2 linked regions of the Homo sapiens genome follow. The protein of the gene in region 1 interacts with the protein of each later gene in a pairwise test. Each region holds a gene or a part of one and is shown on either strand. Other genes may lie near its edges. The genes, in order: NLRP12 and PYDC2.

Region 1 (8,088 bases):
ACACAGTGAAACCCTGTCTCTACTAAAAATACAAAAATTAGCCGGGTGTAGTGGCACGCGCCTGTGGTCCCAGCTACTTGGAGGCTGAGGCACGAGAATCGCTTGAACCCGAGAAGAGGAGATTGCAGTGAGCCAAGATGGCGCCATTGCACTCCAGCCTGGGCAGAAAGAGCGAAACTGTCTCAGAAAAAGCAAAAAAACAAAACAAAAAAACGCAGCAAATCCATGTTCACAACGTGCTAGCGAGCAGCATAGGTTTTACTGATGATGGGTTTGGTTGGGGTAGAAGACAGTTTTCATCGTACACCATATAGTAAAGCAATTTAAATTCCTATTACTCATCTCCATAAACCCTCCAAATGTTCTTCCCAGGCACCTGACACCTCCTATTTCCTTTCCTTCTGCCTTTCCCCACGTGGCTTCTAAAATGCCTTTTTATCCTGAATGATTTAGTTTTACCTGCAAACAAGCAAACACCATACTGCAAAATTTCTCCAGTTAACAGATTTCATACTCAAGTGACTTCTCAAAGTATTCCCTCAAAGGAAACAGGTCTCTTCCGGAATGGCAAAAGGGAAATTCTGCTGATAGAAAAACAAGCATTTCTCTGTGCCTTTCTAGTACTAACACAGAGAAATGTTTCTCAGCAGAATCACTAGGGGAGCTTTATATTATAAAAACATGTATTTAGCCAGGCGTGGTGGTTCACACTTGTAATCCCAGCACTTTGGGAGGCTGAGGTGGGAGGATCACTTGAGCTCAGGTGTTCCAGACCAGCTTGGGCAACATAGTGAGACCTCATCTCTATTCAAAAAATTAATATAAGAAAAAAAGGAAAAAGAAACATATGTTTGATGGCCCCTGCCCCACCAAGATCCTGATTCAGGAAGTCTAGAGAGGGACCAATTTCATATACATATTTATATATTTATAATTCTTATTGTAATGTATATAAAATATTTCATCTATATATAATTTTTTTTTTTGAGACGGAGTCTCACTCTGTGGCCCAGGCTGGAGTGCAGTGGTGTGATCTCGGCTTACTGCAACCTCCGCCTCCCAGGTTCAGGAGATTGTCCTGCCACAGCCTCCCGAGTAGCTGGGATTACAGGCACACGCCACCATGCCTGGATAATTTTTGTATTTTTATTTATTTTTTTATTTTTAATTTGTTGTTGTTGTTGAGACAGAGTCTCACTCAGTCACCCAGGCTGGAGTGCAGTGGCGTGATCTCGGCTCACTGCAACCTCCACCTCCAAGGTTCAAGTGATTCTCGTGCCTCAGCCCCCCGAGTAGCTGGAATTACAGGTGCGCGATAGCACATCCGGCTAATTTTTGTATTTTTAGTAGAGACGGGGTTTCGCCATGTTGGCCGGGCTGGTCTCAAACTCCTGACCTCAAGTGATCTGCCCACCTTGGCCTCCGAAAGTGCTGGGACTACAGGCGTGAGCCACCACACCCAGCCTTCTATATATAATTTTTATAAATGTCCCTGATGATAATAATTTCTCTTCTAGTTGAAAACCAACAGGGCAAATTAGCACCTGCTTTGAATGGGTTTATCCTTGTGATGCTAGGCAAGTGAGGCCCCAAAACAGGGCTTACCCCGGGATAGTTCTTGGCTTCACACAGGAAAGAATTCAAGGGAGTGGCAAGCAGGTGGTGGTGACAACTTCTATTATTTATTTATTTATTTATTTATTTATTTGAGATGGTGTCTCTGTTACCCAGCCTGGAATGCAGTGATGTGATCTCGGCTCACTGCAACCTCCACTCCTGGGTTCAAGTGATTCTTCTGCCTCAGCCTCCCAAGTAGCTGGGATTACAGGTGCCCACCACCATACCCAGGTTATTTTTGTATTTTTAGTAGAGATGGGGTTTCACCATGTTGGCCAGGCTGGTCTTGAACTCCTGACCTCAAATGATCCACCCGCCTCAGCCTCCCAAAATGCTGGGATTACAGGCGTGAGCCACTGCACCCAGCAAAAAAATTTTTTAAAAAAGGAAAATTGGGCTGGGTGCGGTGTCTCATGCCTGTAATCCCAGCACTTTGGGAGGCCGAGGTGGGAGGATCGCTTGAGCTCAGGAGTTGAAGGCCATCCTGGGCAACATGGTGAAACCCCATCTACTAAAAACAAAAAAAAAAAAAGAAAAAAAAAGGAAAATGGCATTCCTTGTCTTTAGATTCATTCTTGTGTTTCCAGAAATGGCACTAAGCCCAGAAGCAGCTATAGAAGTTGCCAATTCTCTTCTTTCCCCATGAGAAAGTTCTATCTTGAAAGTGGAAGCATGAAGTAGACAGATGTGGATTCAGCTTCCCCCAAGCCTCGCTTCCGAATTCCTAGAAATTAGTTTTACCACCACCTGCAGCAGTGGCGTGGAAGGAGCCTGCGTCGTGAGCCACTTGAGGAAGCTCAGATGGGGTCTGTAGGTAGTTCAGGTTTGCCAAACCTTTCTCCTCCCCTCTAATGATCACTGCCATCCCCACACTCCCAGGATGCACCCACCGCCTGCCCTTACTCAGGCATTATCTCCATCTCCTGAAACATGAAGGCTTCAGCTTCTCGCTCTCCCAATCCAGGCCTCCTCTGTTTGGTCTGCCTTCCACAAGGGCCTTGAGGAATCTTCCTTAACCCAGACCTGACTCCATCCCTCCCCTGCTCAAAACTGCTGCATGCCATGCAACAGAATATTAGTCCTGGAAGGGACTGGATGTGGGAGAATGTCTCATAAAAAGCTGTGAAGGTTTTTTTTGTTTTGTTTTGAGACGGAGTCTTACTCTGTCACCCAGGCTGGAGTGCAATGGCGGGATCTTGGCTCATTGCAACCTCCGCCTCCTGAGTTCAAGTGATTTTCCTGCCCCAGCCTCCTGAGTAGCTGGGACTACAGGCACCCGCCACCAAACCCCAGCTAATTTTTTTTTTCTTTTTTTGAGACAGAGTCTCGCTCTGTTGCCCAGGCTGGAGTGCAGTGGCGCAGTCTCGGCTCACTGCAACCTCTGCTTCCCGGGTTCAAGTGATTCTCCTGCCTCAGCCTCCCAAGTAGCTGGGATTACAGGTGCGTGCCACCAAGCCCGGCTAATTTTTGTATTTTTAGTAGAGACGGGGTTTCACCATGTTGGCCAGGCTGGTCTCAAACTCCTGACCTCAGGTGATCTGCCCGCCTCAGTCTCCCAAAGTGCTGGGATTACAGGTGTGAGCCACTGCGCCTGGCTATGAAGGCTTTTGTGTGTGTGTGTGTGTGTGTGTGTGTGTGTGTGTGTGTGTGTGTGTGTCTGAGGGGTCTTAATTGATTAGGAGCATGAAACAAAGTTGGCATGATGCAGGAGACAGAGGGAATTATAAACTTGCTCTTCCATCAGAATTCATAAATTCTGCTAACACATATTTTGTAGAGATGGGGCCTCACTGTGTTGACCAGTCTGGTGTGAAACTCCTGGCCTCAGGTGATCTACCTGCCTTGGCCTCCCCAAGTGCTAGGATTACAGGCATGAGCCATTGCACCCAGTCACATCTTCCTCTTACACTAACCCTCCTGTCTTCTTCTTATAAAGACTCTTGTGGCTGGGTGCGGTGGCTCACGCCTGTAATCCCAGCACTTTGGGAGGCTGAGGCAGGTGGATCACGAAGTCAGGAGATCAAGACCATCCTGGCTAACATGGTGAAACCCCATCTCTACTAAAAATACAAAAAAAAGAGAATTAGCCAGGCGTGTTGGCGGGCACCTGTAGTCCCAGCTATACGGAAGGCTGAGGCAGGAGAATGGTGTGAACCTGGGAGGCGGAGCTTGCAGTGATCCGAGTTCGTGCCACTGCACTCCAGCCTGGGCAACAGAGCAAGACTCTGTCTCAAAAAAAAGACTCTTGTGATTCCATGGGTCCTGCCCAGATAACCAGGATAATGTCCCCATCTGAAGTGCCTTCATTTGGTCACATATGCTAAGTCTCTTTTGCTATGTAGGGTGAAATGTCACAGGTTCTGGCCATTAGGACATGAATATCTTTGGGGACCATCATCCTGCCTACCGCAAAGTCCCTCTCATGCCACTCTTGTGACTGAGAGAACAGAAAAAAAATAGCAGACCTACGTGAGGTCCTTAATAATTCTCCCTGAGGCTGGGCTCAGTGGCTCATGCCTGTAATCCCAGCACTTTGGAAGGCTGAGGTGGGCGGATCGTTTGAGCTCAGGAGTTCAAGGCCAGCCTGGGCAACATAAGAAGACCTTGTCTCTACCAAAACTACAAAAACTTAGCTGGGCATGGTGGCGCATGTCTGTGGTCCCAGCTACTTGAGAGGCTGAGGTGGGAGAATCGCTGGAACCTGGGAGGCGGAGGTTGCAGTGAGCTGAGATCACGCCAGTGAACTCTAGCCTGGGTGGCAGAGTGAGACTCTGACTCAAAGAAAAAAAAAAAAAAAAAAGCCAGGGACGGTGGCTCACACCTGTAATCCTAGCACTTTGGAAGGCTGAGGCGGGTGGATCACCTGAGGTCAGGAGTTCGAGACCAGCCTGACCAACATGGTGAAACCCTGTCTCTTCTAAAACCACAAAAATTAGCTGGGTGTGGTGTCCGGCGCCTGTAATCCCAGCTACTCAAGGGAAGCTGAGGTGGGAGAATCGCTTGAACCTGGGAGGCAGAGGTTGCGGTGAGCCAAGATCGCAGAGCCAGGGCCACAGAGTAAGACTCTGTCTCAAAAAAAAAAAAATTCTCCCTGGAAGAGGCGCAGTCGCAGTTTTGATAATACACTCTACCACACACACTAGTGAAATGAGGAAAACAAGAGGAAAGCGGAAAGAGAGTGACTGTTTTGTCAAGAGATCCAGGAAGAGACAGCAGAAGTGAAAATCTTTTTCATCAGCCAAGTGGCTCCTCGGATTTCTTAATCTCCCCCCGAACTTCCTCTTCTCCACCCAGAACAGCCATTGGTGAGTGGGGCAGGGCAGGAGGGAACTGAAGAGTGAGAAAGCATTATTTCAGCAAAAGGTCTTTCCTCCCTTGCTCTCTCCTCCAACCACTGGCTCAGCCTCTCCGCCCGCTGCCTGTGAATGATGCAATGGAAGGTGTGCTGGGGTCGCCCTGTGTCCCGTGCATAGGAGCATCTCAGCCTCCAGGTCCTCTCCTTTGGGGCTCACGGCACCCCCATGCTACGAACCGCAGGCAGGGACGGCCTCTGTCGCCTGTCCACCTACTTGGAAGAACTCGAGGCTGTGGAACTGAAGAAGTTCAAGTTATACCTGGGGACCGCGACAGAGCTGGGAGAAGGCAAGATCCCCTGGGGAAGCATGGAGAAGGCCGGTCCCCTGGAAATGGCCCAGCTGCTCATCACCCACTTCGGGCCAGAGGAGGCCTGGAGGTTGGCTCTCAGCACCTTTGAGCGGATAAACAGGAAGGACCTGTGGGAGAGAGGACAGAGAGAGGACCTGGTGAGGGGTAAGGAGGTGGCGGGACAGGCAAGGCTAGAATGCCAGCCGGGTCCAGTGACTCATACCTGTAATCTCAGCACTTTGGGAGGCTGAAGAGGGCAGATCACTTGAGGTGAGGAGTTCAAGACCAGTCTGGACAACATAGTGAGGCTCTGTCTCTACCAAAAATAAAAAAAATTAGCCAGGTGTGGTGGTATACGTCTGTGATCCCAGCTTCTCAGGAGGCTGAGGTGGGAGGATCACTTGAGACCAGAAGGTCGAGGCTGCGGTGAGCTATGATCCTGCCACTGCACCCCAGCCTAGGTGACAGAACGAGACCTTGCCTCAAATATTTAAAATATATTTTTTTAAAATATATATATTTAAAATATATGTTTTAAATATATATTTTAAATAAATATATTTTAAAATATATATTTTAAATATATATTTAAAATATATATTTAAAACATATATTTTAAATATATATATTTAAAACATATATTTTAAATATATATTTAAAATATGTATATAATTATATTATTAAATATATATTAAATATGGTATATATTATATATAAATATAGTATATATTTATTATATAAATATACTATATTATATAAATATGGTATATTATATAAATATATATAAATAATAAATATTATATATTAAATATTTAATACATATATTATTAAAATAAATATTTAAAATACATATATATAAAATCCCTGAGCCTGGGAGATCTGGAATTTATATATATATACACACACGTATATATATGTGTATATATGTGTATATATATGTGTGTGTATATGTGTGTGTGTATATATATTTTAAGAGATGAGGTAGCCAGGTGCAGTGGCTCACACCTATAATCCCAGCACTTTGGGAGGCCAAGGCGGGTGGGTCACCTGAGGTCAGGAATTCGAGATCAGTCTGGCCAACATAGCAAAACCCTGTCTCTACTAAAAATACAAAAATTAGCCAGGCGTGGTGGCACACGCTTATAGTCCCAGCTACATGGGAGGCTGAGGCAGGAGAATCGCTTGAACCTGAGAGGTGGAGATTGCAGTGAGTTGAGATTGCACCACTGTACTCCAGGCTGGGTAACAGAGTGAAACCCCATCTCAAAAATAAATTAAGAAAGAGATGAGGTATCCTTTTTTTTTTTTTTTTTTAAGACTGAGTCTCGCTCTGTTGCCCAGGCTGGAGTGCAGTGGCGCAATCTCCGCTCACTGCAACCTCCGTCTCCCAGGTTCAAGCAATTTTCTGCCTCAGCATCCCGAGTAGCTGAGATTACAGGTACCTGCCACCATGCCTGGCTAATTTTTTGTATTTGTATTTTTTGTAGAGACGGGGTTTCACTATCTTGGCCAGGCTGGTCTTGAACTTCTGACCTCGTGATCCACCCACCTCAGCCTCCCAAAGTGCTGGGATTACGGGCATAAGCCACTGTGCCCGGCCAAGATGAGGTGTCCTTATGTTGCCCGGGCTGGTCTTGAACTCCTGGGCTCAAGCGAGCTTCCACCTTAGCCTCCCAAAGTGCTGGGATTACAGGCATGAATGACCACTGCCTGGCCACCAATTCCCTTTTCTTTCATACTAATCCCTGAGCCTGGGAGATCTGGAATTCTAATTTACGTACACACACATCTATATCTATATAAAAATTTCAACTTTTAGATTCAAGGGGTACATGTGCAGGTTTGTTACATGGGTATATTGAGTGATGCTGAGATTCAGAGTAAGATTGATCCTATCATGCAGGTACTTGAACATAGTAATAGTACCCAATGGTGAGATTTCTCCCCGCCACGAGTCCCCAGTGTCTCTTCTTCCCATCTTTCTGTCCATGAGAACCCAATGTTTAGCTTCCACTTATAAGTGAGAACATGCAGTCTTTGGTTTTCTATTCCTGCATTAGTTTGCTTTGGATAATGGCCTCCAGCTGCGTCCATGTTACTGCAAAGAACATGATTTTGTTCTTTTTTATGACTGTGTACAGAATTCTAATTTCATCCCTTTGGTCTTTGTTCATGCTGTGTTCTGCCTGGAATATTCTCCATCTTCTTTGCCTGGAAAAGTATTACTTACTGAAACCTTGAAGCCACTACCTTCTCTAAAGTAAAGTATTTACTCCTCTTCCCCCACTCCTTCTGATTCCTCGCTCCCACCACTCTGGCTGGCTCAGAAACCCCACTTCTGTGCCTCCTTAGCACTCTTGGATTTCTTTTTGTTGTTGTTGTTGAAACAGAGTCTTGCTCTGTCGCCCAGGCTGGAGTGCAGTGGCGCAATCTCAGCTCACTGCAAGCTCTACCTCCTGGGTTCACGCCATTCTCCTGCCTCAGCCTCCCGAGTAGCTGGGACTGCAGGTGCCCGCCACCATGCCTGGCTAATTTTTTGTATTTTTAATAGAGACGGGGTTTCCCTATGTTAGCCAGGATGGTCTCGATCTCCTGACCTCATGATCCAGCCGTCTCGGCCTCCCAAAGTGCTGTGATTACAGGTGTGAGCCACCGTGCCCAGCCAACATGATTTCTTTTATTATATCTTCTATCTCATAAAATAATCACAATGAGCTGGGTGCGGTGGCTCACGCCTGTAATCCCAGCACTTTGGGAGATTGAGGTGGATGGATCACCTGAGGTCAGGAGTTCGAGACCAGCCTGGCCAACATGGTGAAACCCTGT
Region 2 (5,002 bases), on another chromosome or scaffold:
TCTCTGATTTAGTAATCAGTAACTTCGACACCATCCCCATTATCTCTGGAGCAATAGGCTATTTTTGCAAAGTGACTGACAATATAAATCAGATTATAGTGCTCGTGGTACCATCACGGTGGACAGATGCACAGAGAGTATTTCTAAAGAAATACTCATAGAAGAGAGAAAAACATTAAAGTGGTTGCAAGAAGAAAGCATTGCAGAATGTGAACATTTGTGGTCTACTTTTGTGAATTTTTAATAAAGGGTTTCTGGCATGTAGAACTGCTGTGTCTTCATTAGAATAATGTGGAGGCTGCTACCAAGTAGGACACATATTCCAGGCGAACCAGGGTACGACTGGGAAGAAAGGACTCTGAGTATATTAGTTTTAAGCATGATGCTCCCTTCCCATAATACACAGTAAAAGCCAAATACAGGATTTCCTAACGTGAAAAGCAGATATGCAGAAGTGGGAAGAGACCTGATTTTGAATTGGAACATGTGAATCTTTATCCCAATTCTGCCAAGAACTTGCCATGTATCCTGAGGTAAATCCTCTTTCCTAGCTTGACCTTTGTTTCTCAATTCAAAGATTCGCTTCAAAGATTTGAACTTGGCCAGGCGTGGTGGCTCATGCCTGTAATCCCAGGACTTTGGGAGGCTGAGATGGGTGGACCACCTGAGGTCAGGAGTTTGAGACCAGCCTGATCAACATGGTTAAACCCCATCTCTACTAAAAATACAAAAAATTATCCAGGTGTGGTGGCAGGTGCCTGTAATCCCAGCTACTTGGGAGGCCGAGGCAGGAGAATCGCTTGAATCTGGGAGGCGAAGTTTGCAGTGAGCTGAGATCGTGCCACTGCGCTCTAGCCTGGGCAACAGAGTGAGACTTGGTCGCCCACCAAAAAAGGTTTGAACTTGATGACACCAAGAGCTGCTTCCTGCCCAATGACTTTATCTTAGTAAAAATTCTATGTTTTGATTCTTTTTGAAATATGAATTATTTAATGCAAGTAATACATTTGTGTGGTTCAAAATGTATAACTATCAAACGAGCACTGTGAACACCTCCCTTCCATTCCCATCTGTGTCTACCATGTTCTGTACTAATTTCTACTTTTACTGATTTTTAAAATATCTTTCCAGAGTTTCCTTATGAAAATTCAAACAAATATAATTTATATCCCACCTCCCATTTCTCTCACAGGAGTTACATGTGCCTTGTTTTCTTTTGTTTTTTTCTTGAGATGGAGTTTTGCTCTTGTTGCCCAGGCTGGAGTGCAATGGTGTGATCCTGGCTCACCGCAACCTCCATCTCCCAGGTTCAAGCGATACTCCTGCCTCAGCCTCCCGATTAGCTGGGATTACAGGCATGCACCACCACGCCCAGCTAATTTTGTATTTTTAGTAGAGATGGGGTTTCTCCACGTTGGTCAGGCTGGTCTCGAACTCCCAACCTCAGGTGATCTGCCTGCCTCGGCCTCCCAAAGTGCTGGGATTATAGGTGTAAGCCACCGCACCCAGCCAGCATGTGCCTTTTTTTAAACTGAATATATCATGGACATTTTTATGTATCACTATGTAAGCCACTCCTCATCCTGTATTTAGCCTCTTGCTAAATACAACAGATACAACAGATCCTCAAATAACATTTTTTTCAACATCATTTTGTGTAACATTGATGAGGAAAAAAAAATTCCAAACAGGGGCCACTGTCTATATGGACTTTGCATGTTAGCATGTTCTACCCATGTCTGCATGGATTTTCTCTGTACTCTACTTTCCTCCCACATCCCAAAGATGTTAGGTTAATTGGTGTGTCTAAATGCTCGCAGTCTGCGTGAGTGTACCCTGTGATAGGATGGCGTCCTGTTCAAGATTGGTTTCCACCTGGCACCCTGAGCTGCCGCATAACCTCAGGCCACTCACAACCCTGAATTGGAATAAGTGGATAAAAAATCATCTTACTCATTTTTATTAATCTGTTTAAAATGCATGTAGGGCTCACATTTATTTCTATGTTTAATATTAGAAGTGTTTTGGTTTTTATTTAGAACTTCGGTGATGTTTTTGTGACCAGCATGCCATAGGAATTTAACTCTTGCTTGTATGAGTTAGCCTATGATAAAATTGTTTTTGTTATACATCATTTCATTCAAAGTTGCAGTTTCCAAGAATCTATTGAGGACATTAAGTGAGTATTTTGTTCTTACAAATAATGCTATGCAAGCAGACACACCTGTAAGACAAATACTAGAGGTGGAAAAGCCAGGTCAAAGAGCAAATGCTCTTGTCGTTTATATTTTTCAGGACTGCCTTCTCTAGGGTTCATATAAATTTATACTCAATCTGAAACATGCACTCCAAAAAATACAAGCAAATTGAATACAGTGACCTATAAAAAGAATTATACACAATGACCAAGTGGGATTTATCCCAGGACGGCAAGGTTGGTTTGAACATATGAAAATCAATTAATATAATTCATCATATCAGTAGAATAAAAACAAAAATTACATGATTATCTCAATAAACACAGAAAAAGCACTGGACAAAACCCAACTTCCTTTCATGATAAAAATACTCCCAACTGGAAAATAGAAGGGAGCTTCCTCAATCTGATAAAAGTTATCTATGAAAACTCATAGCCAAAATTATATTTAATGGAAAAATGATTTTTGTCCTAAAATCAGGACCATCTCAATGCTATCTGCTCTTAGCATGACCATACAACATTACATTAGTGGTGCTAGCCCTAGCAACTAGACAAGATAAGAAAGGCAACTGGATTGGAATGGAAGTGAAAGTGTCTGTATTAGCAGATAACATAATCTTGTATATAGGAAATCCTAAAAAATTCACTCGAAACCTGTTAGAACTATTAAATGAGTTCATCCAGGTTTCAGGATACAAGATCATACATAAAAATCAGTTTTTCTTCTACACACTTGTAATGAACAGTCCAAAACTGAAATTAAAACAATTCCTTTTAGAATCATATCAAAAAGAATAAAATACCTAGAAATAAATTTTAACAAAGAAGTAAAACTTATGCTCTGAAAATTACAAGACATTATTGAGAGAAATTAAAGAGCTAAATAAGTGGAAAGCATCTCGTGTTTATAGATTGGAAGGCTTAATTTACATTGTTAAGATGGCACTACTCCCCAAACTGATCTACAGATTCAATACAATCCCTGTCAGAACCTCAGCTTACTTTATGTAGAAATGGGCAAACTAGTTAGAAAATTCAAGTAGTATCGCATAGACCCAGTACAGCCAAGATGATATTGAAAAATAAGAGCAAACAAAGACAATTCACCTTTCCTTATTTCATGACTTAGTAATTTATTTAGTATTTCCTCATTTCATGACTTAGCATCTTAATGGTAATTAAGATAATGTGGTACTGGCATAAGGATAGGCACATTGCTCAATAAAACAGAACTGAGAGTCCAAAAATAAGCCCGTACATCTGTGGTCAACTGACTTTCAACAAGGGTTTCAAGACCGTACAATGGGGAAAGAATAGACTTTTCAACAAATGATGCTTAGGCAAGTAGATTTCTACATGCAGAAGAATAAAGTTGGACCTCTATTTCATGCCACATACAAAAATTAACTCAAAATATATCAAATACCCAAATGTAAGAGTTAAAGCTGTAATATTCTTATAGTAAATGATAGGGGTACATCTTTATGACCTGAGACTTGGCAAAAGATTCTTAGACATGACATCAAAAGCATAAAAAATAAGAAAAAAATAGATAAATTTGATTTCATCAAAATGAAAAACATTTGTACCTTAAAGGACACCATCATTAAACTGATAAGACAACTCACAGAATGGGAGCAAAAATTTGCGTATCGCGTATCTAATGAAGGACCTGTCCCTAGACTATATAAAGAACTCTTACAACTCAGCAATAAAAAGACAATAACGCAATTTTATAATGAGCAAAAATCTGAACTGATATTTCTTCTAAAAAGATATAAAAATATATACTTATTAGTATATGAAAAAATGTGAGAACCAGAGCATAGGGCCAGGCGTTGGGAGAGCTCCCACATAGGACAAGATGGCATCTTCTGCAGAGCTGGACTTCAACCTGCAGGCTCTTCTGGAGCAGCTCAGCCAGGATGAGTTGAGCAAGTTCAAGTCTCTGATCAGAACAATCTCCCTGGGAAAGGAGCTACAGACCGTCCCCCAGACAGAGGTAGACAAGGCTAATGGGAAGCAACTGGTAGAAATCTTCACCAGCCACTCCTGCAGCTACTGGGCAGGGATGGCAGCCATCCAGGTCTTTGAAAAGATGAATCAAACGCATCTGTCTGGGAGAGCTGATGAACACTGTGTGATGCCCCCACCTTAACCCCTCAGGGATAGTGAGTTGATGGCTGAGCTAGATGTTGCTTTAGCCTTGGTTCTGCCTCCATTTTACATGCACATGTTGCTTAACCTTGTTATATATGAAATATCTATATCACCAGTATTTTGAGATAAATAAAGGTGAAATAATTCACAAACATTAAAAGAAAAGATGCCTGACAACTTTAGTATTCAGGGAAATGCAAATCAAAACTATGATGAGATACCACTTCATATCCACTAGGCTGGCTAGAATAGAAAGATAATAACAAGTATTGGCACAGATGTGGAGAAACTAGAATCCTCATATACTGCTTATGGAAATGTGAAATTGTGCAGCCACTTTGGAAAACAGGATGGCAATTTCTCAAATGATAAACAGAGTTCTCATATGATCTAATATTATATTTATAAGTACATGATCAAGAGAAATAAAAACATAAACACAAATGTTTATAGTGTCATTGTATACAATAGCCAAAAGGTGGAAACAACCTAATGTCTGTGAATGGACAAATGAATAAACAAATTGTGGCATATGCAGCTAATGAAATATTATTCGACAAAAATGAAGTATTGATCACATGCTTAAACATGAATGAACATTGAAAACACTATGCTAAATGAAAGAAGCCTGTCATAAAAGAC

What was found.
Region 2: the proteins of NLRP12 (region 1) and PYDC2 interact in a two-hybrid assay, tested with the Homo sapiens proteins (one study listed by IntAct).

What each region holds. Positions count from the first base shown.
Region 1 is NC_000019.10:53,821,225-53,829,312, reverse strand, and holds the start of NLRP12 (NACHT, LRR and PYD domains-containing protein 12), read left to right. Parts: upstream 1-4,998; 5' UTR 4,999-5,138; coding exon 5,139-5,427; intron 5,428-5,435; exon of another isoform or gene 5,436-5,532; intron 5,533-8,088. UniProt on the Homo sapiens protein: Plays an essential role as an potent mitigator of inflammation. Primarily expressed in dendritic cells and macrophages, inhibits both canonical and non-canonical NF-kappa-B and ERK activation pathways.
Region 2 is NC_000003.12:191,457,099-191,462,100, forward strand, and holds PYDC2 (pyrin domain-containing protein 2), read left to right. Parts: upstream 1-4,064; coding exon 4,065-4,358; downstream 4,359-5,002. UniProt on the Homo sapiens protein: May play a role in innate immunity by disrupting the interaction between PYCARD and NLRP3, thereby regulating the NLRP3 inflammasome. May also inhibit NF-kappa-B signaling distally by affecting the nuclear accumulation of RELA.